7 linked regions of the Homo sapiens genome follow. Changing the gene in region 6 together with the main gene of any one other region gives a genetic interaction. Each region holds a gene or a part of one and is shown on either strand. Other genes may lie near its edges.

What was found.
Region 1: changes in PTAR1 (region 6) and SPTLC1 are lethal when combined (synthetic lethality), as found in Homo sapiens cells (one study listed by BioGRID).
Region 2: changes in PTAR1 (region 6) and SLC35A2 are lethal when combined (synthetic lethality), as found in Homo sapiens cells (one study listed by BioGRID).
Region 3: changes in PTAR1 (region 6) and TRAPPC13 are lethal when combined (synthetic lethality), as found in Homo sapiens cells (one study listed by BioGRID).
Region 4: changes in PTAR1 (region 6) and SECISBP2L are lethal when combined (synthetic lethality), as found in Homo sapiens cells (one study listed by BioGRID).
Region 5: changes in PTAR1 (region 6) and TXNDC15 are lethal when combined (synthetic lethality), as found in Homo sapiens cells (one study listed by BioGRID).
Region 7: changes in PTAR1 (region 6) and VPS52 are lethal when combined (synthetic lethality), as found in Homo sapiens cells (one study listed by BioGRID).

What each region holds. Positions count from the first base shown.
Region 1 is NC_000009.12:92,042,414-92,045,913, reverse strand, and holds part of SPTLC1 (serine palmitoyltransferase 1), read left to right. Parts: intron 1-3,500. UniProt on the Homo sapiens protein: Component of the serine palmitoyltransferase multisubunit enzyme (SPT) that catalyzes the initial and rate-limiting step in sphingolipid biosynthesis by condensing L-serine and activated acyl-CoA (most commonly palmitoyl-CoA) to form long-chain bases.
Region 2 is NC_000023.11:48,902,683-48,905,664, reverse strand, and holds the end of SLC35A2 (UDP-galactose translocator), read left to right. Parts: intron 1-182; coding exon 183-919; coding exon of another isoform or gene 920-1,075; exon of another isoform or gene 1,076-2,199; coding exon 2,200-2,227; coding exon of another isoform or gene 2,228-2,301; 3' UTR 2,302-2,482; downstream 2,483-2,982. Other genes in the region: PQBP1 (polyglutamine-binding protein 1), read right to left, coding at 2,581-2,737, 2,870-2,933. UniProt on the Homo sapiens protein: Transports uridine diphosphate galactose (UDP-galactose) from the cytosol into the Golgi apparatus, functioning as an antiporter that exchanges UDP-galactose for UMP.
Region 3 is NC_000005.10:65,638,527-65,642,026, forward strand, and holds part of TRAPPC13 (trafficking protein particle complex subunit 13), read left to right. Parts: intron 1-3,500.
Region 4 is NC_000015.10:49,036,447-49,039,946, reverse strand, and holds part of SECISBP2L (selenocysteine insertion sequence-binding protein 2-like), read left to right. Parts: intron 1-2,177; coding exon 2,178-2,356; intron 2,357-3,500. UniProt on the Homo sapiens protein: Binds SECIS (Sec insertion sequence) elements present on selenocysteine (Sec) protein mRNAs, but does not promote Sec incorporation into selenoproteins in vitro.
Region 5 is NC_000005.10:134,873,024-134,877,170, forward strand, and holds the start of TXNDC15 (thioredoxin domain-containing protein 15 isoform 1 precursor), read left to right. Parts: upstream 1-1,347; 5' UTR 1,348-1,404; coding exon 1,405-1,507; intron 1,508-1,807; exon of another isoform or gene 1,808-2,109; intron 2,110-2,220; exon of another isoform or gene 2,221-2,375; intron 2,376-4,147. UniProt on the Homo sapiens protein: Acts as a positive regulator of ciliary hedgehog signaling. Involved in ciliogenesis.
Region 6 is NC_000009.12:69,750,012-69,753,511, reverse strand, and holds part of PTAR1 (protein prenyltransferase alpha subunit repeat-containing protein 1), read left to right. Parts: intron 1-2,561; coding exon 2,562-2,731; intron 2,732-3,500.
Region 7 is NC_000006.12:33,252,328-33,254,876, forward strand, and holds part of VPS52 (vacuolar protein sorting-associated protein 52 homolog), read right to left. Parts: exon of another isoform or gene 2,371-2,549; intron 1-2,370. UniProt on the Homo sapiens protein: Acts as a component of the GARP complex that is involved in retrograde transport from early and late endosomes to the trans-Golgi network (TGN).

The sequences.
Region 1 (3,500 bases), about 22 Mb from region 6:
GGTCAGTTTGACCAGATTGCAGCTAAGAAACCAAAAACTTAGTTCACTCACATTGGTTTATTTGTGTAAAACCAGATCATCTGTTTTAAAGAATCGTGACTTTGTTTTTCTGAAAATGAAACAAACTCATTAATAAAATATTACAGCAGTACAGAAGATAGAAAGATGAAAATAACAACCCAACATCTTACCACCAGAAATAACCAGGGTAAACACTGAAGCATCTCTCCATGTCTGCACACACAGGGATGCCATTATATATTATGTAATTAGATGACTGGGTTCATACCATCTGTGTTACTTTTTAATAAATTACTAAGTTTTAACACAAGAAAAAGAAACAAGTGAAATTTTATCAGTGTTTTTTTTTTTTTTTTTTTTTTTTTTTTACTACACAAGAGTCACTTTTTTTTTTTTTATTATACTTTAAGTTTTAGGGTACATATGCACATTGTGAGGTTAGTTACATATGTATACATGTGCCATGCTGGTGTGCTGCACCCACTAACTTGTCATCTAGAAGAGTCACTCTTTAAGATTCCTCTGTAGTTAAAAAAAAAAAAAAATGGAGGTTGGTGATATCTCCAGGCACATTTCTGGTCTTATATAAAGTGATTTCACATTGCCCGAGGTCTTTCTTTTTGCCTTTCCTAAGGTTAAACATGCTTTCTTGGTCATGAAAGTCCTATCTGTGTTCCGGATATGGAAACTGGAGACTTAACTGAAAGAAAAGGACAATTGATAAATGAGTACATCACAGCTGTTCCAGATAAAGAAGGGGCAGAGACATTAAAGTTCTGGGTGTGTCTGTGTGATAGTAACAGCAGTTCTTGCATGATTTATGGTAGAGAGATATATTTGTATTGGTTCCAGTTCCATTGGTTTGTGAAATATTAATATGCCAACACAGCCTAGCATATTGGAGTCACTGGAAATGCATCAGTGCTAGCCTTACATGCCTTTCACTCTATGGTGTTAACCTGCCTTTTTCTAAGTCTAATCTCCACTTACCCCAGCTGTATCACACTTTTTCTTTCCAAAATTCCTAATCCTCTGTCTTCACTCCCCTCACTTTTAGCTAACAGCCTGGCCTTATGCTGTCACTTGGGACTCTGTCATATTTCCTGACAAATCTACACACCTGTGGGTATCTGAACCAGTCTTCCCTCCTGTAGACCAGTAAATGTTGCTCCAACTACCACAGGCCCTTTTTTTAAGGACTGAGTGCCTTTGCTTGTCCCTGCTACTTTGTCATCAGCCTGTCCCCTTTCTTGTGTTATTTGATTAGCAGTCATGTCCACTTTAAATTCCTCTTGCCTGTCACCTGACGTTTCCCTCTGCAACTCCCCATGTCTTTGCTCCTCTCAGTAGCTATCATCTCCACGTCTTCACTTACACTGGCAGCTCTGAGACCTGGCTTCTGCTACTGCCCTTCGCCTGGACTGTTTTTGTGGAGGTCTCCACTGACTGCTGAATCCAGTGGACCATCTTCAGAGCTCATCTTCTTGATGTCCCCATAGTTTTCAGCACAGGTGACCACTCTTTCCTTCTTTGGACTCTGCTACACTGCACGCCTGGATTTCCTTTTACATCTTTGAATGGCTCCATCTCGGTCTCCTCTGAAGGCTTTCTTTCAACACCTTGCTCTTCAAGGCTTTGTCTGTGCTTCTCTTTTCTTCTCATTACCTTCTTGAAGAATTGCCTTCTCCCACACCTGGAGCTCCACATCGTTTCATGACACCTGTATAGAGACAGCTCCCAGCTTCGTATCACCACCCTGGACCACTGCAGCTGCAGGTCTCACACCCAGTTGCCTACTCAGTATCCACAGTTGGAAGACTCCATGGCACCTCACAGTAAACACACATTCATAAGGGTCGCAGGGGCAAACCGTGCTGGTATCTAGATGGTTACAGAGAACAGTAAACAAAATAGCAAAGAGGCCAATGTGACAGGAGGAAAGGAGTGGGAAATCTGGTGGAAGATGAGGGCTGGGTCATGGGCCATCCGCACACAGGGACTTGTGAGCCGTGATGAGGACATTGGCACACAGAGGAAGCCCTGGCATGGTTTTGAGCAAAAAAGTGAAACAGCCTATCTGATACCCTAGCAAAATTACTTTTGCATGGTGTGAAAAAATACATTGAACAGCAGTAAGAACAGAAGCAGGGAGACCAGTTAGGAGATTGACGCAGGTGAAAGGTGATAGTGACTCTGACCATGTTGGGAGCCATGACCTGCGAAGTGTCTGGATTCTGGGTATCTTCTGAAGGGAGAGCACACTGGATCTAGCAGAAGTTCATATGCAGGGTGAGTGAGAAAGAGAAGACTCCAGGTAGAGCTCAGGGGGTTTGGTCAGAGTAAATAGGTAGAGTTGCTAATGAGTGAGAGGGACAGAACTGTGGAGAAATACCTTCTGGGGAAGGTCAGCAGTGGTTATGTTAAGCCCAAAGTGCCCATCAGACATGGAGTGCAGAGCAGCAGCTGGATATACAAGTCTGAAGTGTGAGGGAGAGTACTGAGCTAGAGATAAATGTTTGAGTCTTGGGGTATGGATATTATATGAAGCATTTCAGTGTGAAGAGGTCAGAAACTAGCAAAGACTAGTCTGAGAAAGAGTGGCCAGTGAGGAAGAGGCAGGCTGGAAGAGCCTAGAGTCCTGGAAACCAGGGAAGAAATTGCTTATGTAGGAGGTCAGCCTGTGACATGCCGCTGCTGACAGGCCAGACCAGATAACAGAACACTGATCCTTTGACTTCGTTATGTAGAGGTATTATGACTTGGTGAGTAGTTTCAGGGGAGTGTGGGGTAAAATGCCTGCTTGAAGGAGGTTCCAGACAGGTGGACACGGCCTAGATGACTGTTTTGAGGAGTTTTTCTCTGAAGAGGGACTAAGAAACAAGATGGTGGCTGGAGAAAGAAATTGGTCAAGAGAAGAATATTTCAGTTTAAGATTACTGAGATCAATTTCTGAATAACATCTGGCTAAGTATAAAACATCCTTTCTCCTACTGGTTGACAGTACTGTATCATATACCAGGTTCCCATTTGTACCTAGATCTGTTTTTAAACTGTCTCTTCCATTCCATTGGTATATTTGCTCATTCCTCAGACTCTTTTGATTTTGTCTGTTTTTATCACTGTTTTGGAATACAGGTTTATCACTAGTGTCTGTTTTTATCACTGTTTTGGAATATGGGTTTCTCCAAAATTATTGCTAGAATCTTAATTGGAACTGCATTAAATTTTCTGATGAATGTGGAGGGAAATGTCATCCATGAACATGAGCTCTCTATTTAAATCTCCCTTTGTGTCCTTTAATGGAATTCCTATAAAGCCCTTGTACCTTTATGGAACCTTTAAAGGGAATTTTCAGACATCCTATAGATTTTGTTGCTGTTATGAATGGGGTTGTCTTTTCTGTTATATTTTCTACTTGATTATTGCTGATTCATAAGAATATTATTATTTTCTCTAAACTGACCTTATATCCAGGAGTC
Region 2 (2,982 bases), on a different chromosome or scaffold from region 6:
TCAGAACTGTTTTGCTGCAGCTCAGCCAATGGCCAGTGGCTGGCTCCTTTTGCTGTTTTTGCTGTCATACCCCCCACCCTGTCCCTCCATTGTGCCTGGGGGCCCACAGTGGGTGCTGCCCCCCATGTGCACCTGTTGGGGGCCAGGGTCAGCCCTCAGTGCCTTCCACGTGCCACTCGCAGGTGACATACCAGCTGAAGATCCTGACCACAGCGCTGTTCTCCGTGCTCATGCTGAATCGCAGCCTTTCCCGGCTGCAGTGGGCCTCCCTGCTGCTCCTCTTCACTGGCGTCGCCATTGTCCAGGCACAGCAAGCCGGTGGGGGAGGCCCACGGCCACTGGATCAGAACCCTGGGGCAGGCCTGGCAGCCGTCGTGGCCTCCTGTCTCTCCTCCGGCTTCGCAGGTGTCTACTTTGAGAAGATCCTCAAAGGCAGCTCAGGCTCCGTGTGGCTGCGCAACCTGCAACTGGGCCTCTTCGGCACAGCACTGGGCCTGGTGGGGCTCTGGTGGGCTGAGGGTACCGCCGTGGCCACCCGTGGTTTCTTTTTTGGGTACACACCTGCTGTCTGGGGCGTGGTGCTCAACCAGGCCTTCGGCGGGCTACTGGTGGCTGTGGTTGTCAAGTACGCTGACAATATCCTCAAGGGCTTTGCCACCTCCCTGTCCATTGTGCTGTCCACTGTTGCCTCCATTCGCCTCTTTGGCTTCCACGTGGACCCATTATTTGCCCTTGGCGCTGGACTCGTCATTGGTGCTGTCTACCTCTACAGCCTTCCCCGAGGTGCAGCCAAAGCCATAGCCTCTGCCTCTGCCTCCGCCTCCGGGCCCTGCGTTCACCAGCAGCCTCCCGGGCAGCCACCACCACCGCAGCTGTCTTCCCACCGTGGAGACCTCATCACGGAGCCCTTTCTGCCAAAGTCAGTGCTGGTGAAGTGAGGGCTGGCAGCAATGGGGGGACACAAGGGAGGGGGACTGGGGTGGAGGGTGTTGGGCATCTGCAGGACCCAAGTCGCCACCCTCCGGGGCCTGGCTCCTCTGGGTTTGGGAGATGGTCTTTTCTCCCAGGTCACTGAGACTTCTGGAGGGGTGTGGGACTAGAGCTGGGTGTCACGTGAACCCTTCCTGGTAGGGTGACCCCCTTCCCCTGGAGGGGGTTTTAGAGCTGCCGCCTCTGCTCCCTCTAACCTCTTTGGAGGCAGGGTTGGGGGTATTGTCATTCAAGGCCTTTTTTTTGTCTGCTCCCTCCCCGACCCTGTGCCCTCTTCTGGAGGTTTCTCGTCTGGGAGAGTCCCTCCCAGCAGTCCCTCCACCTCCATAAGGACACACTGGACAAAACTCCCGCAGCTCTTCAGGAATGACCGATGCCTACCTGTGGGGTTCAGTTGCCCATAGTTTGAGGCCTTCTCTCCTCCCTTACCACCGCTCTGGATCATGTTACTAGTTCCGTCTTTTGTGTGGCCTTGGGCCAGCTTCCTTGATACCTTGAAGATGGGCTTCTTGTGAGTCCCCAGGGAGAAAGGGACAAGAGCTAAGATTTTTGCATCAGCCCTTCTGGCAGAAGGTGTGGTAGGGGCCATTTGTTTTTTTTAGTGGACTTGGGATTTGTGGTGTAATCATATCATTAATGATCCAGGGTGTGGGAAAAATGGAGGTCCTTGAAGTGGCTGAATCTCATTGTATTTAAGACACTGTCAGTTGCCAGATGTAGGCTTATTTTTGGAGATGTCTAGGAGAGGAAAAAGCTACCAATCATACTCTTGATATCCGTCTGGCTGTGTGAGGCACCCCTACCTCATGGGGGTGTCTTGGGATTGATGAACTGTGGAACCTGCCTCCTGCGCTCCCCAAAGCTTATTAACCCCTTAACTGTATCGGGGCGGGGTGTGTGTGTGCATGGAAGATGCCTGGGCTGTCTTTGCTATATGTAAATAGAGCCATTGGATCTTTATTTTTGATTAATTTGTTCTGATTTTTTGGTTTGTTTTTTAAGGAACTGTAATGAACAAATGTCAGGATATCCAATGCCAAATAAAGATGTTGTATTTATTTAGTCCACGTGTAGCTTTCTGACCAGGTGGGCACCATTACTAACCCCAGGACTACCAGCCTCACCACCGCCGCCCTCACTTGCTCAGGAAACCCGCCTGCCAGCCTAGCCCAGCTTTGTGTTTTTCTTTCCTCCCCATTCCCACCACAGGTTGCTCACCAAGGTGAAGGGTTCCTAGCCGCTGGGATTGAAGACATTGGCCTGGCCTCGTTCTCTCTTCTTGCCCTTGGCCCAGCTGGGACCAAACTCTGATCAGTATTAGGGGTAGAGTGAGGTAGACACTGGACTCCCTGTCCCCACCACCCCTGCCCCACCCAGGGCCAACATGACTAAGCTCTCTCATGACCCACCTCAGCTCAGCCCCCCAGCCCCTGCCAGCTCCACACTATCTCTTAGCTGAGTTTTTGCAAATAAAATGTGTTGTGTATCTTGCCGACTTGGGTTGGGCAGCCTCAAAGGAAGCACTCAGGTATGGTGGGCAGGATCACCAGAAAGCTTTTATTTTAACCCAGGGCCAGGGAGGCCGAAGCTTCAATCCTGCTGCTTGGTTCGGGAGGCCTCTGCATTGGCCCGGAGCACAGCCCCTGGGGATGGATACGGCCGCTGCTGGAAGAGGGGCCCAGCTGCTGTGGTGTCAGCGCCAGTCTTGGCCTCATTCCGCTTGGGGAGTCCTGTTGACCACGTGCCCCTGCCGGTGAAAGAGTCAGGGGATGGGGATGGGTGATGTGGCGGACACAGCCCACCTGGTCCCAATGAGGAATGGAGGAAGGAGGCCGGAGGATGGTGTCCACGTACTGAGTCAAGAGGGGTTGTCACTTACCGGGGGGCGTCTGAGTATGAGCTAGGGTCCATGGGGTCTAACTCTTCATCCTTTCGGCTTACTGCTGTGGAAGTGGCAGGGCAAAGTCTTCAATAGAGGCACCAGGATCCCCT
Region 3 (3,500 bases), on a different chromosome or scaffold from region 6:
CTTTTAACAGTGAACAAATTTCACTTGGTAAGAGTCCGTAAGGTGGTACAGAGGAATAGTAGCTGTATTAGTCCATTTTCATGCTGCTGATAAAGTCATACCCAAGACTGGGCAATTTACCAAAGAAAGAGGTTTAATGGACTTATAGTTCCACGTAGCTGGGGACAATCATGGCGGAAGGCAAGGAGGAGCAAGTCATGTCTCACGTGGATGGCAGCAGGCAAAGAGAGAGAGCTTGTGCGGGGAAACTCCCATTTTTAAAACCATCAGATCTCAGCCAGGCGTAGTGGCTCATGCCTGTAATCCTAGCACTTTGGGAGGCCAAGGCGGGTGGATCACTTGAGTTCAGGAGTTCGAGACCATCCTGCCCAACGTGGTGAAATACCATCTCTACTAAAAATACAGAAATTAGCCAGGAGTGGTGGCGTGTGCTTGTAATCCCAGCTACCTGGGAAGCTGAGGCAGGAGAATCACTTGAACCTGGGAGGCTGAGGTTGCAGTGAGCCAAGACTGTGCCACTGCACTCCAGGCTGCCTGGGTGACAGAGTAATACTCCATCCCCCAAAAAATAAAAATAAAACCATCAGATCTCATGAGACTTATTCACCGTCATGAGAACAGCACAGGAAAGACCCACCCCCATGATTCAATTATCTCCCACCAGGCCCCTCCCACAACACATGGGAATTACGGGAGCTACAAGATGAGATTTGGGTGGGGACACAGAGTCAAACCATATCAGTAGCCATACAATAGAGCATCTTGAAAGCCAGGCTAAGGTTTTATTTAACCTTTTTTGAAAAATTATTTTTTAAAATGGACAAAAAAATTAATTAAGAAAAAAAAAAACAGGCCTGGCACAGTGGCTCATACCCAGAATCCCAACACTTTGGGAGGCTGTGACAGAAGGATTACTTGAGGCCAGGAGTTCAAGACCAGCCTGGGAAACATAACGAGACTCCCATCTCTACAAACAATTTAAAAAGTAGTTGAGCATGCTGGCACACACCTGTAGTCCCAGCTACTCAGGAAGCTGAAACTGGAGGATTGTTTAAGCCCAGGAGTTTGAGGCTGCATTGAGTTTTGCCTGGGCACTCCAGCATGGGCTACAGAACAAGACCTGTCACTGAAAAAAATTAAATAAAAAACAGCAGGCAGTTGGCTTTTGAGCACTCTTTGTGTTAGAAAGACTGATATGAGCACATTGTGTGGGATGCTTTGTAGAAAATGGAACAGTTAGAAGACCTTTGAAGTAGTGTAGAAATTAAAAGATAGAATATGCTAACTCCGCTAATGACCTGAAATTTCTTCAAAAGAAAAAGAGCAAAAAGAAGGTAAGAACTCACAGTATGTGGGGGAGAGGTTTTTGTAAAACCTGTCTTAGAGTGATGAGTTCAGGTAATTGGAGTATTCCAAAAAGGACCTCTAATTAGAATGAGTTTGAAAATGATCATAGAGTTTTAAAGTTAACAAGGACGTTAGAGAGCAAATAGACCCAACTTCCAGAAACTGGATGCAAATTTGTGCATACACGTACATATGTTTGTCATATATGGATGGGGTCTCTGCCTTTCATTAAATTAGGAGTTGACAAACTACAGCCCAAAGACCAAATTTGGTCCATTGTCTGTTTTTATAAGGCTTTTGAACTAAGAATGGTTTTCACATTTTCAAATTATTGAAAAGAATATTTTGTGACTTGTGAAAATTACATGAAATTCAAATTTCAGGCCAGGTGTGGTGGCTCCTGCCTATAATCCCAGTGCTTTGGGAGCCAAGGCAGGAAGATTGCTTCAGGCTACGAGTTTGAGACCAGCCTACACAACATAGCAAGGCACCGCCTCTACAAACAAACAAAAAAGAAATTCAAATGTCAGTGTCCTTAAATAAAGCTTTACTGACACACAGCCATACTCATTTGTTTATGTTTTATCTGTGGCTGATTTCCAGCTACCACAGCAGAGTTGTATATAGTTGAAACGGAGATTGTATGGCCTCTAAAATCTAAAATATTTGCTAATGACTTCAGAGAAAAAGCTTGCCAACCTCTACATTCGATTGTGAAAAGATCTGATTTTCAAAAGTTTGAGAACATATACTTTTGTCTTTCTATGTTGTAAATATTGAATTTCTTGGAATTCAGTAAATACTGGCAATTCAGTAAATTCAGTAAATATTGAATTTATTTTTATAAGAGATTAATAAAATAGCAAAGGCATATACTTTAAGATGTCAGTACTATAAAGATCAAAGAATACAGTAGTATGCATGTTCTAAAACATGATTTTATATTTCATGCCTTTATTCACTTTTATAATAATAATTATAAGCAGTGTAGTACTCACTAGGGGTCTTAGGCTCAACTAGACATTCAGACTCATGATATATAATAATGCTATTTTTCTTTTTCTTTCTTTTTTTTTTTGAGAGAGGATCTAGCTCTGTCACCCAGGCTGGAGTGCAGTAGCATGATCATAGCTCACTATAACCTCAAACTCATGGGCTCAAGGGATCCTGCTGCCTTAGCCTCCTGAGTAGCTGGGATTGCAGGGGTGTGACACTATCCCTGTCTAATTTTTTAATATTTTTTAGAGACAAGGTCTTGCTATGTTGCTCAAGCAGGTCTTGAACTCCTGAACTCAAGCAAGCCTCCCGCATCAGCCTCCCAAAGTGCTGGAATTACACATGTGAGCCACCATATCTGGCCAGATAAGCCAATTGTGACATCAGAATCACTTAAGAGGATATAGGTCATGAAGCACAGCTTGATATTGACCTGTATTTGTGTGAGTGTTGTCTTTTGATCAGGTTTTAGGTGTCAGTATTATGGTTGCTTAATAAAAGATTTCGGATGTTTTTCCAGTATTTTCAGTGCTTTGGAACAATATGTGCATCAGGCTAGACTCAGTGGCTCATGGCTGTAATCCAGCACTTTGGGAGACCAAGGCAGGAGGAGCCCTTGAATCCAGGAGGATCCCCAGGACTCACCTGGGGAATATAATGATCGATGTCCCTACAAAAAAGAAATTTAAAAATTCTCTGGCCATGGTGGCGCATACTTGTAGTCCTAGCTACTTGGGAGGCTGAGGCAGGAGGATCACTTGAACTCATGAATTCGAGGCTGCAGTGAGCTATAATTGTGCCACTGCATCCTAGCCTGGATGACAGGGCAATACCCTGTCTGAGAAAAAAAAAAAAACAAAAAAAACAAGACAAAACAAATACAGAGAACTGTGGATCATTTAGATTACCTATTCTTTGAACGATTTGTAGAATTCCCTGCAAAATCATATGAGCTAGTTCTTTTCTTTTTTAAAATGGGGAAGCTCCCTGATAACACTTTTTCTTTTTTTTTTTTTCCTATGAATATAGTATGTTTAAGCAGTTTATCTCTAAGGGTGTCAATTTTGTTAAGCTGTTTTTTTCTAGGAAATAATCCATTTCATTTCATGTAGATTTTCACATTTATCTGCATAGAGGTCTGTAAAGTAGGCTCTTAA
Region 4 (3,500 bases), on a different chromosome or scaffold from region 6:
ATAATTTGATGTACCCATATACCTTGCTGAAAAAAACCCCGAATGTCTACTAGCTCAGATTTATAAAACTGCTCAGTGAGTTCTCATATGTCGTAAAGAACTTTTTGTTTTTTAAAAGAAATCCTGGCCAGGCTCATGCCTATAATCCCAGCACTTTGGGAGGCTGAGGTGGGAGGATCACTTGAGCCCAGGAGTTCAAGACCAGCCTGGGAAACGTGGCAAAACCCCATCTCTACATTAAAAAGTTTGCTGGGTATGGTGATGTGCACCTGTAGTCCTGACTACTTGGGAGGCTGAGGTGGGAGGATCACTTGAGTCCAGGAGATTGAGGCTGCAATGAGCCATGATGACACCACTGCACCCCACCTCCACCTCCACCCCGTGACAGAGCGAGACCCTGTCTAAAAAAAAAAAAAAGAAAGAAAAAAAAAAGAAATCCTAAAAATTACATTTTTAGTGCAGTTAAACTGTGATTTCAGTTTCTTTTCTTATGCATGTATGTGTGAACTGTATAAAGCAAGCTTCCATTATCTTTGCATTATTGCTGTACGTCGGCTTTTCTTTTTCCTAATTGGGGAAATATTTATTGTTTTGATATATTGTGTCCTATATAAGTGAGTTTGGGTTCTAATGAATATCACAGAGTGAAAATTACTAGCTTGTATCATTAGAGTTTGAAGATATTTTTGCCTCTTATGTTAATCTTTAAGAAACCAACTTCAGTTCACTAATATTTGTATTATTATTATAGTATATCTACTTCTGATTTGGTTAATAGTACAAATGTAAACCTCAAATCAGGTAGGGAGGAAGGATACTGAATTAATACTGCTGGACAGTTCAGATTTTACCATCCCCACCCCTTCCCTTTTAACAAGCATTTATAAATATTTACAGTGAACTTTTTAGAGAAGTTAATTTTTCTGAAACAAATGAGCATATCTCATCTTCAGATTTTTTACTTGGATTCCTTACTAGCTGCTTTTGTGAGAAACATGAAATTTATTCTTACAACTATGTTTTGGTGGGAGCCTCTAATAAATATCACCCTAGTGGGTTTGTTGGGAAAAAGTTCTGGCTAGGACCATGGCTTTTAAGGTAATTTTTTACAGTAGTTAAAAACATTAGCTTGCATTTCACTTACTGGTTTCATTAAAACATGTTTCATATCATTTGATATTATAATATTTATATGATTTTTTACAGAATGTACTTAATGATTTCAAAAAATAATTTAAAATGTTAAATTTGTTGTTAACTATAACATATAGAAACTGCATAAAACCAATGTACAGCTTGATGAATTGTTACAGGACAAACACCTTGTAAATTTTATCCTGGTTAGGATATAGAACTTTGCCAGGCACCCTGGAAGCTCTCCAGATTCCTCTTAATCACAACTCTCTTTGCTAAGAATAATTCCTATCCTGACTTTTATGGATTTTATTTACTTTTCTTTATAGTTTTGTTGCCCATATGTGCATCCCTAAATACTACAGGGTTTTTTTTTTTTTTATGTCTTTTAAATCTCTATAGATTTCTTGTAAGAAAAGATACAAAGTAAACTAAAATGGATTACATATCTTGGATTACTTTAGTTTACTCACATGTGTACTGGGAAACTGAAGTACTCATATTTTCCCCAGTTTAACTGTGCAGATTTTTTCTTGTTAATGTTAAGTATTTTTTCATCTTAGACATTTTTTCTTTTAATGATACTGATCTAATTTCCAGAAATGGACAGAAATAGACAACTTTTAAGACTATTCAAACAAATATAGAGTAATAATTATCCTTCATAATTTTGTTCAATTTTTCCCCCAACAAAATGAGTTAAAAACACATTGTTTTGTCTGAAGAGCTACATCTCTTACTACCAACTTTATTTTTAGAACCTGAGGTATAACTTCTGTGTTCTCTTGATTGTTTTAACAGCTTTAATTACATTGAAATGTAACATTTGGTTTATTTTCCTTATTTGATGGCTTTGTCTAAATAACTTGATCATTATTCAGTTATTTTAAAATTGACATTGCTCTTCCTTTTGGATGTTTTATGAATGCTGAGAAGAGACCTAATTACTGTTTATAAGGACTGACTCTTCTGTTGTTAAATTTTGAATTTGTAGGAAGTTGCTTGCTCATTTGTTATTAATGTATTCTACTTTCTCTTTGAAGAATGTCAAGCTGTCAGCTGAGGTGGAGCCATTTATTCCCCAGAAGAAGAGTCCTGATACATTTATGATCCCTATGGCTCTCCCAAATGATAATGGAAGTGTTTCTGGTGTGGAACCAACTCCAATTCCCAGCTACCTGATTACTTGTTACCCATTTGTGCAGGAAAACCAGTCCAATAGGTAATTTGTTTATTTTTATTTTCTTTTTTGTGGGGGTGGCTATAAAAGCTGGCAAAGTGCACTTAATATTTTTCCTTTGCAACTTTTAGACTTTAACCATTTCTCTATTAAGAGGAGTAAATAAAATGATACTGAAATTTGGAAATTGTTGATATGGATTAGTTTCTCATTTTTTCTAAGAGAAAATTGAATTCTTAGGCTATGTCTCCTTCAGTAAGTCATTGAAATTTATTTGAAGTAAGTCAGCTCAAAGGGAGAAATAAAATATTCAGAGGTGAACAAAAACCTTTTTTTTTTTTTTTTTTTTTTTTTTTTTTTGAGATTGAACATCTAATCTCATAGTTGCCAAGATAGTCTCTGGTGTAAAAGAAAATACCAAGCAATAGTCCTTAACTTTGAAGCTGTCATGGTTAGCATATATTAGTATTTCTAGACTCAGATTTTAGTTTAAATTTATGTCTGTGCTATAGTTACAGGATGATTTAGCAAAATTGCCCGCAATTAGGTCATGTGTAACCTAGTGGTTAGGGTGTTACTTATGATAGTCGTGATAGCCATTCTAACCCTGCTTATACTGTCTGAGTGATTAGCACTTCATTGGTATAGTTTATTTTATGGCTGTATAAAAGTACTTTCAGCCTTTTTCAAGTTATGTCACACAGAAAATTTCGTTTTTCTAGGACTGTAAATGGATGAGGCAGCTGTTAACTGGCTATAGGCTCTGTCATTCCTGAGGGCTGAGTCAATCAATATTTCCACCCATCTATAAACCACTGTTGCACATTAGTGTGCCAGTGCACATTCTTTGAGAAATTGTGGATGTATGGTATATAAGGCCATTCAACTACTCAAATATTAAATGTTCAAGTTAATATTCTGAGGCTGTTAATCAAGAGTCTTGAGGGTTAGACAAATAGTAGAAACTAAGGAATCATTTTCAATTGAAGTTAGCATGATATTAAATATCTTTGCCTATATTGGATAATGTGCAAACTGATTCATGAAACTAAATTTAATAATACTATTTTTCTATTTGAAAAAATGGCCAAGTATACAGTATGATAAACTTAATTGATTTTCTTGGTTTACCAAATAATCTTTGTGAATTTATGAGTAAACAAGCCAACAGATTATTTAAAAAATA
Region 5 (4,147 bases), on a different chromosome or scaffold from region 6:
ATACCAACGTATTTAGAATAAAAGAATCATCCACAGGGACAGATTAATGATGCATCTTTCTGGCCTAACAGTGTCTTTTTGATGGGCATAGAGATAAGGGGACTATGGCCACACCATCAGAATTGTATTATTCAATTAATAATGCCTACCACTTTGAAATGCTTCCTGTGCCCCAGGACACTGTGCTCATCACTTTACATCTCATTTCATCTATAAGACTCTATATAACGTCATTTCCACTTTACAGCTGAAGAAACTTAACTTTAAGTTACATAACCTGCTGACTGTGAACTATCACATGTGCTGAAGTTGGGATTCACCAAGCGGCCAAAAAGCACAGGTTCCCCTTACCATTGCTATGTTAACCAATAGACTGATGTATTTTAAATCAGTTTCTATTTTTTCAACCTCATAAGTTTGAAAAGCTGCACTCTGCACTGATTTAGCACTGACTGGTGGCTGCTTAAAGCTTGCCTTATTCCATTTTAGCAGGCCCCCCGGCAAAATACCCCAATTAGTGGTGTCATCCTCTCTATTCCAAGAATTTTCTCTTAAGACTCCCGCTCTGTGCGTTTGCTTGGGAATGCAGAGCCCTGTTCCTCATCTCCCCATCTATGCTTTCTTCATTCTAAGCCCTTTCCTATCTACTTTATGCTCGAGGTGGCTCCACCTCCACCATGAGCCAGAGCCAATGATGCTCACGGCCCCAACCATGATTAAAAAGAGATTGCCCTGCAAGGTAAATCAGTTAAAACCAACCTCTCCTGCCCTGAGTGGATAGGTAGGGTTAGGGTTGCCAGATGTCACGAAGTTACAGGATGCTCAGTTTTAAGGTATATCCCTTATACTATAAGGGTTATAGTAAAAAATATTCATTATGTGAAATTCAAATATAACTGGGTATCAGGTATTCTATGTGGCAACCCTAGGTAGGGGAGCACAGGTTAGGCAAGCGATTAGAAGATTTGCAGCCTCCAAAGTTTCTGCACCTCGATGGGACACTAGAACAGGAAGGCTCCTGGGCCTTTCTGGCTCTGGGAATGAAGCGTGGAAAACCCTCCTTAGGCGGGCGCAGTGCTTCAAGTAGCCAAGCTCTGACTTCCGAGGGAAGAAAGGAGGCCATGGGCCTCTGCCAGAGCCATGCTCTGCACTCTGGGGTCAGCAGAGTTCAAAACGACCTGCAACGTCTGGCGCTTAGCTCCTAAAGAGGTCTCCAGTCCAGCGCCGACGGCCAGCGGCTAGAGGCCGTCCGCCCGACTCCAAGATGGCGCCCGCCACAGCTGCCAGGTGTTAAGATGGCGGCGCGGGGCCGCGCCCGCGCTCCCAGGCTCTCCTCCCCCAGCCTTCCTCCGGCTGGCAGCACGACTCGCGTAGCCGTGCGCCGATTGCCTCTCGGCCTGGGCAATGGTCCCGGCTGCCGGTCGACGACCGCCCCGCGTCATGCGGCTCCTCGGCTGGTGGCAAGTATTGCTGTGGGTGCTGGGACTTCCCGTCCGCGGCGTGGAGGGTGAGTGTGGGCCGGGGGCGGTGCATGAGATGATGGGGCGAGCTGAGGTCCACCCGGGCGACGCTCTGGACCTGCGCGAAGGCCGGCGGTGCGCGACTCGCCCCTTCTTGGCGTCTCCCCGGGCGCGTCTCCCCGACTTCTCTCCCCGCGCACCGCCCGCTGGTGGCCCGCGAAAGGGGGCCGGTGGGCTGAGGGCCGGTGGACGGGAGCCCGGGGGTGGTTGGGCCGCGTTCAGGCCGCCCTCAGCCCGTGGCTGGTAGCCAGGAGGGACAGTGCGGTAAGCGCTGCTGAGGCATACCCTCTGGTGATAAGCAATTTATTATTAATAACATTATATCAAATACCGACATTGTTGTGGCCGTATTAGGAGCCAGGAACTGTGCATCGTGCTTTATTTACATCATTATCCCATTTAATGCTCCCACAAACCCTGTCAGATCGGTTCCGTTTAGTGTCTCCATTTCACAGATGAAGATGCTCAGGCCCCGCCTAAGTTTGCGCTTCTGATACGTGGCAGAAGCCTGTCTCTCTGACGCCAAAGCCCAGTCTGGAGTCCACGCTGCTGGACCACTGTCTTAAGGAGGCCAGTCTTGCTCAGCTCCCTGCATGAAAAACAGACGAGAAACACGGGAGACTCCCGGTAACCCCCAACTTGCCGGTAGGGAAGGCAGCCACTCTAGAGGCATGGCGAGGGTGGAGAGTGGAGGCCTTACTTTCATGCTCCTTCACCCCACTCCTCATAGTCCTGTTAAAGTCCAGACCCTCGGTCTCGCTTGTCATTTAGACCTTAACAGGAATAGGCAGGTCTTTCTTTTCCCTGGGGTGTCCTGGATGGAGGCAGGACAGCAGAGAGTTGTGGAGAAGGGTGAGTCATAGTAACACAATTACCATGAATGAAAGCGCTCACTGTGTACCAGATGCTGTGCTCAGTGCTTTACGAGCATCATCTTTTGGAATCTTTACTGTTTTGTTTTTGTTTTTTTAAGGGATGAGGGCTTGCTCTGTTGCCCAGGCGGGAGTGCAGTGGCCCATCATGGCTCCCTGCAGCCTTGAACTCCTGGGCTTAAGTGATCCTCCCACCTGTTTCCCAAAGTGCTGGGATTACAGATGTGAGCCACTGCTCCCGGTTTATGTAATTTTTATTTTTATTTTTTTTTGAGATGGAGTCTCGCTCTGTTGCCCAGGCTGGAGTGCAGTGGCGCGATCTTGGCTCACTGCAACCTCTGACTCCCGGGTTCAAGCGATTCTCGTGCCTCAGCCTCCTGAGTAGCTGGGATTACAGGTGCCTGCCACCACACTGGGCTAATTTTTGTATTTTTAGTAGAGATGATGGTCCACCATGTTGGCCACGCTGGTCTGGAACTCCTGACCTCAGGTGATCCACCCACCTCGGCCTCCCAGAGTGCTGGGATTACAGGCTTGAGCCACCGTGCCTGGCCTTAGTAATTTTTAAATGCATATGCAGTAGATGTTATCATGCTCATTTTATAGAAGTAACTTAAGACTCAGAGCCAATAAGTCCTTTGACAAGGTCATACAGCCAGAAGTTGAGGAGCCTTGATTCAAGCCCATGTCTGCCTGACTTCAGAGCCCAACCTCTGCATTTTCACTATACTTAACTGCTAGCCTCACAGAGGGGATGGCATGGGTTGGATATCTTCTGTTTCAGCCCCTCCACCGTGCTCTGTGCCCTGTGTGGCTGTCCTGTGTGGAATAAATACCAGCTGTCCTACCGTCTTGCTTCCATTGTGTTGGAATGAGGGGAGAGTGAGGTCAGGGTATTGATTCTCTCCGCTCCCTCCCTGAGAAGTTATTGAAGGCTGGCTTTGCCCCCGGTGGAAAGCATTGAATTCTAGAAAGCTGCCCTCTGTGTTACCCTTGATGTTTCAAGGTTCTGTGACTACTTCTCTCTCCAGACTCTTAAGGTCTATGAGTGGTAACTGGCTCCTCCTCTACTGTTACTGGCCTTGGAATTCCTTACCATTGCTTTTCATTTCTCTGCACCCAGCCTACACATTAGTGGTCCCTTCATTAAACTCTCCTCAACTTGCCCAAGTTAAATGTGCTGTTTCCTGGCAGAACCCTGGCTGATTCAGGGTTCAGCTTGGGTCTTTGGTCATCATGGCCAGGCCATGAATGGGGTGAAGACAGAAGAAACTTCACCAGCTGATTTCTTCTCAGAGTAGCTGAAAATCTGAGGTGTTTTTTTTTTTTTTTTTTCTGCAGAGGATGCCACTGGCAGATTATGCTGGCCTCAGGTGCTGAGGCCCTGAGAGACTAAGCAACCTGGAGGTAGCAATGCTATCCAGGTGTCTAGGAATGGAAGCAAACTCCTGGCTTCAATACCCCTATGCCACTCTTCCCTAGGCAGTCAGCTAGCAAATTCTTACTGAGCACTCATCATATGCTAAACACTGTGCTGAGCACTGGGGATCCAGTGGTGAGTTAGAGCAGCAGGCCTTTGGGGAAGGCAGCCACTAAATAACTACAAATTACTAAGAAAATTGCAAGACTGAGAAATGCATCAAGGAGAGTCCCAGGGCGTTTTTGGGAACTGTAATGGGAGACCTCCCACCCTGGTCTGAGGGTCAGGGAATGTGTCCTTACAGAGGTGACATTTAGGGTGAGATCTGAATGAGG
Region 6 (3,500 bases):
GTGTATATATCTATTTCCATCCAGGACTTGGACACATGCTGTTTTCAGTATACTTTATTAGGAGAAAATCAGAGATAATGTTCTTTTAGAGGGACAAGAAGTGAAAACTATTAATTTGAATATTATCACTAAAGTACCAGGATAATCAGCCTTTCAGGAAGCAGCTATTGGGCACCTGCTATATCCAAGCCATTCTTATTTTATAAAGTATTTCTTGAAAGAACAGACAGTCAAAGCAGTGTGTTTTTTAATTGTGCAGATGGCTCTTTTCTGTAGTTTAGATACCAAATTATTAGCTGGGCATTTTAATCCTAGTTTAATTAGTGAGCAAGACAGGTTTTTATATTGTGAATTTAAGTTTAAAAAAAAAATCCCCCCCAAAAACAAACCATACCCAGAAACAGGATTCTTTTATTCTTGTTACTATAACAGTTATATTGTTGACTCTTGCAGTTCTTTGAAGTGTTGTAAGTAGGTTATTATATCTCAGAGAACAGAATTTCCTGAAATAATCACATTGAGTTTATTTACTTATTTAGTTTTACTTTATTTTTTAATATTCTTCATGTAGTAAAACACAAACATCAGAAAATACCAGAGATTCAGTCATATATTAGTCAAGTATAGCTAGATATGGCTAGGGGTCATAATAATGAATTAGATAGATTTCAGGATACTACCAAATAGAGATGCACAAAATATATTTTGAAATACTGGGCATTGACCTCAGGTGCTCTTTCAGCTTTGTCCTTATTCTTCCTACAGGACTTTGTTTATATTATTGGAGTAGTAAAGTGGTAACATTTTATTATGGATATTGACACAGATCCCCAGCAAGACTTTAGCTCTTTGAAGTCTGAGACCACTTTGCTTTATTCTTTTTGAATTTTAGAACCTAAGAAAGCACCCAGTACATTGTAGTTAATCAGAAAACTTATGATAGTATTGATATAGTATATCAAAACACCTTTGAGTCAACGGAACCAATTGTAAGGATAAAAACCCATAGATCCCACAGTCTTCTTGAGAGTTAAATTAGCTTGAAAGAATTGTTAGTGTCTTGCAACCCCTAAGATATCCTTTTTATTGATAAATCCCTGTGCCACTAATGAAGTGATCAGTAGAAAGTAGATTACCTCTAAGCTATTCAGTTTAGTTTCCAGGAGGGGTTTTATTTTAAATCCACAGCCTCCTACCAATTTGTGATAGTGGCCCAACAAAAAGACAGGGTGTTTCTCCTACTTTGTAATTCAACCAATTTCCCTCTTTTGGGTCTATCAAACCACTGTGTTCTTGGTAAGGGGATGCCAGGGACATAATACATAATGTCACACACAAACTCTGAAAACCAGTTCATTATTCTGCTTTTTAAAGACATGTTTAAAATATCTATATAGACACTCTAAAAACATTTATTTCAACTACTCTTATTGTTAAAAAGTTTCTTGTTATTCATTAATTAAACAGAGGACATTCTGTTTGAGAAAGGATCCTTTGTGTAGGCAAGAATTATAACTTCCTTTAGAGTTGAAAGGCATGTGAATGTGTTTTGCACAAATTTTTTACGTTTGCTGGTTCATTTACTAAGTAAGTCAAATGCCCTACATATTGTTTATTAAATCTCTGCCTTTAATGTAAATTTTCAGCTTAAGTTGAGGTGGATTGAGGGATATAGATGCTACCACAGAGGAAAATTATTGAATTCTGAAATGTATTTTGTGTTTTAACATTTATTTGGGTGGTTTTTTAATTCAGGAAAATATAAAGAAGAAAAAATGGCCCAAAATCTCACTGATAAAATAACGTTTTTTGATACTTTGTTTCTGGTCCACATGCATTTATTAGCAAGCAAGCATAAACACATTTGTTGACATTAAAAAAATAGAAATACATACAATTATTAGATAATTGAAACTGTATAAAAATAAAATCCTTCCTTACCACCTTTCTCTCTCCAAAAATTTCTTGTTATCCTTCCAAGAAAATTTTTAATGCATCTATATATCTTCTAAAGAAATTATACAAAAGGATTTGTGCTGTACACTGTGTTCAGCATTTTGCTTTTTGTTTTCATTTCATATATCTTGGCAACTTTTTTTATGTCAGCATATGCAGATCTACCTCATTGTTTTTTAATGGCTTGATTATGTGGATGGGCCTTTTTTTTTTACTAGTCTTATATTGATAAACATTTAGATTGTTTCTAGTTTTGTTGCAACATTGCAGTGAACATCTGATTCACATATTTTGGCATAGGATAATTTCTGAGCAGTTGAATTGCTGGATCAAAGGGTATGTTCCTTCAAAATTTTGAAAGACTTTTTTTTAAGTTGCCATCCAAAGGCAAGACCAGTTTTCACTCCTGTCTACAGAGAGTACAGCATACTGGTTTTCTCATACTCTTGCCACTATTAGCATCTACCAATCCCAGTAAGTGAGCTAAATAATATTTGTAAGGAAGGGGGAAATATGTGGGGTTTTTAAAATACTCTGAAATTAGAAAAATGTTGAAAAGGTTAGTATCCTTATTTTTAATTCTTTTTTATGTTTTACATATTAAGAGATGAAATTGGCCTGATCCCATGTCCTGAAGCTAGGTATAACCGGAGTCCCATAGTCCTGGTTGAAAACAAACTGGGTGTGGAGAGCTGGTGTGTCAAGTTCCTTTTACCATATGTCCACAACAAGCTCCTTTTGTACAGAACAAGAAAGCAATGGCTGAACAGAGATGGTAAGTATGAATCATATTTTCTTCATTTGGTTTTTAGAAGCGACATGGAATATAGTAGGAAGAGCCCTTCTCTGAGTGTCAGCATTCCTGGATTCTAGTTCTGCTTCTTCTGTTCACTGTCTCGGTGGGTGCTAACCTTTCTGTCAAGTGAGTAGTTTCTACTCACCTGGACAAATTTTACAACCACAGTGATTATATAGAAGCCCTCAAGCAGAATTTCAGGGCACCTCCTGTAACCAGAGCAGTTCAGATTTTATCAGTTTATGTATTGGGGTCATTGGTAAGATTTCATTTGAAGGAAAAAAAAAAATCTGAATGTCACTGAAGAAGACTCTAGTCCCTATAGGCTCAGTCTCTGGTTTCTAATCCTTTAGTATTTTTATAGGCAGCAAAACTCATTTTCATAGTAGTCCAAATGAGATAATGTAGGCATGATAGTGGTAGTGATATTATGAACCAGCCCAGTGATTTATGGATGTGCCATTCCACTGCAAGTTCCAGTTGAGCTCTGGCCGTTTGTATCCTGTTCCTGTGCTGAAATGAGCAAAACAAAACTATCCGGCATTCACTTCTTCCATTTCTCTCAGACAGTTTTTTTTTTTACTGCATCAGACAATCCCTAATCATTCCATCTGGTCTCTTTTCTTGGTGTTCTGCCATATTAAGCCTCCATGTGCACAAATTCTGTTTATCATTGTATGCCCACCTCAGGTCTCACTTTTTGGGAGAAGACTAATTTAAGACCATGTCCTTTACTGTTTTTGTAAAG
Region 7 (2,549 bases), on a different chromosome or scaffold from region 6:
CCTGTAATCCCAGCACTTTGGGAGGCTGAGGTGGGCAGATCACCTGAGGTCAGGAGTTCAAGACCAGCCTGGCCAACATGATGAAACCCCATCTCTACTAAAAATACAAAAATTAGCTGGGCATGATGGTGGATGCCTATAATCCCAGCTACTCGGGAGACTGAGGCAAGAGAATCACTTGAACTTGGGAGGCGGAGGTTGCAGTGAGCAGAGATCATGCCACTGCACTCCAGCCTGGATGACAGAGCAAGACTCCGTCTCAAAAAAAAAAAAAAAAAAAAAGGATGTAAAAATGACCAATTAGTAAGAACTATGAGGAATGAACAGACTTGAAAAAAGGAAATTTTTTTAGATATGAAAAGCCAGTTTTAGAAAGTCAACAGATTAACAAGAATTATACAATGAATTAGAATTTATAACTGAAGAAAGGACTCAGAATGTAGCACAGACAGAAGATGGAAAATTTTGAGATAGTAGGAGATACAGAAATCTAATTAATGTATCTAGGCACTGAAATTGATGGCTACTAACATCACAAAGAGAGCCAAGAAGACATTATGTGCTTCCTGATGGAAATACATACCACTACCTCTCAAATATCCCTGTAGAAAAAAAAAAACTAATTTAAATCTGACCAAGCCTTTCCATCTAATTACACACTTATGAGAAATACACCAGACAGAGGAAGTTTGGCCACACCATGGAATGCAGTCAGCAAAATCTAAACTGTACATCATTCTAGATGACAAATGACTCAATAACTCAGTTTCTTCCAAAAATAAATTGCAGAGGAGATGGAAGGGAAATCTATAGACTAAAAAAAGACACATATATGGACTTTATATGGATCCTGATTTGAACCATAAAAATCATTTATGAAGGCCAGGCACAGTGGCTCATGCCTGTAATCCCAGCATTTTGGGAGGCTGAGGCGGGTAGATCACCTGAGGTCAGGAGTTTGAGACCAGCCTGGCCAACATGGTGAAATCCTGTCTCTACTAAAAATACAAAAATTAGCTGGGCGTGGTGGTGGGTGTCTATAATCCCAGCTACTCAGGAGACTGAGGCAGGAGAATTGCTTGAACCCGGGAGGCAGATGTTGGAGTGTGCCAAGATCGGGCCATTGCACTCCAGCCTGGAGGCAACAAGAGTGAAACTGTGTCTCAAAAAAAAAAAAAAAAAAATCACTTATGAAATAACTGGGAAAATCTGAATAGTTATTTTAGATAAGATAATTTTTTTAAGTGTGATAATGTATTGTAGTTTTTAAAACCATCTGTTACCAGGTGTGGTGGCACACACCTGTAGTCCCAGTTACTTAGGAGGCTGAGGTGGGAGGATCACTTGAGCCCAGGAGTTCGAGGCTGCAGGGAGTTATATCATGCTACTACACTCCAGCCTGGGCACTACAGCAAGGCCCTATCTCAAAAATAATTTTCTTAATAAAAATAACATTCTGATACAGATGAAGTGATAATATTCATCTGTATATGTATAAGATTTAATTCAAAGTAACTGGGGGACACAGAAGGAGGATAAGCAATAGGTGTTGGTATAGATGAAACAAAACTGTCCGTGAACTGCTATACACCGAATATCACTGATGATGCCTGGGGGTTCACTATGCTTTTCTAATAGCATAGTGAAATTTCCCATAATAAAATGTTAATTTTTGTTTAATGTAAAAGGGAGATTCAAACAAAAAAACTCATAAAAGCAAACAACCCAGACAGAAAGATCTGGTAAGAAGAAAGTGAAATTATTATTCCATTTAAAAATAAATTATTAATACTAAAATTAGCCAGGTGTGGTGGTGCATGCCTGTAACCCCAGCTACTCAGGGAGACTGAAGCAGAAGAATCACTTGAACCGGGAGGCAGAGGTTGTAGTGAGCCAAGATCATGTCACTGCACTCCAGCCTGGGCGACAGAGCAGCAACTTGTCTCAGTAAATAAATAAATAAATAAATAAATAAAAATTGTATCTTTTCTATTCTTCCCTCAAAATATTCACTTATATCCACTGAGGGTGTCAAATAACTAATATGCTGCAAGGAAGGATCTTTCTATAATCAAGGCATCTTTGTGATGTGATTTTGGACAGAGATTAAATAACCAAATTCAACCTATTACAGTTGCCTAAATGCAGTCTCACACACACATATACAAACAATAATGTAGCAGTGTACGGTGGGGCACAGGGAGTAGACTTGCCAAAGAAAAGTTGAACTAACAGTGATGACCCCTGCTAGGCAGGAGCCATAAATTATATAATGTGTTGTAAGCATGATATATACACCTGATTTTGAAGACTTCATCTTAGAATAAATTTTAAGTATATCTTTTTTTTCTTTTTTTTTTTCGGAAACAGGGTCTTGCTCCATCACCCACGCTGGAGTGCAGTGGCACAATCACAGCTCACTACAACCTCAACTTTCCTGGCTCAGTGATTATCCCACCTCAGCCTCCTGAGTAGCTGGGACTAACAGGCATGTGCCAACATGTCCCACTCATTTTTTTTTTATTTTTTGTAGAGATGGGGTTTCACCA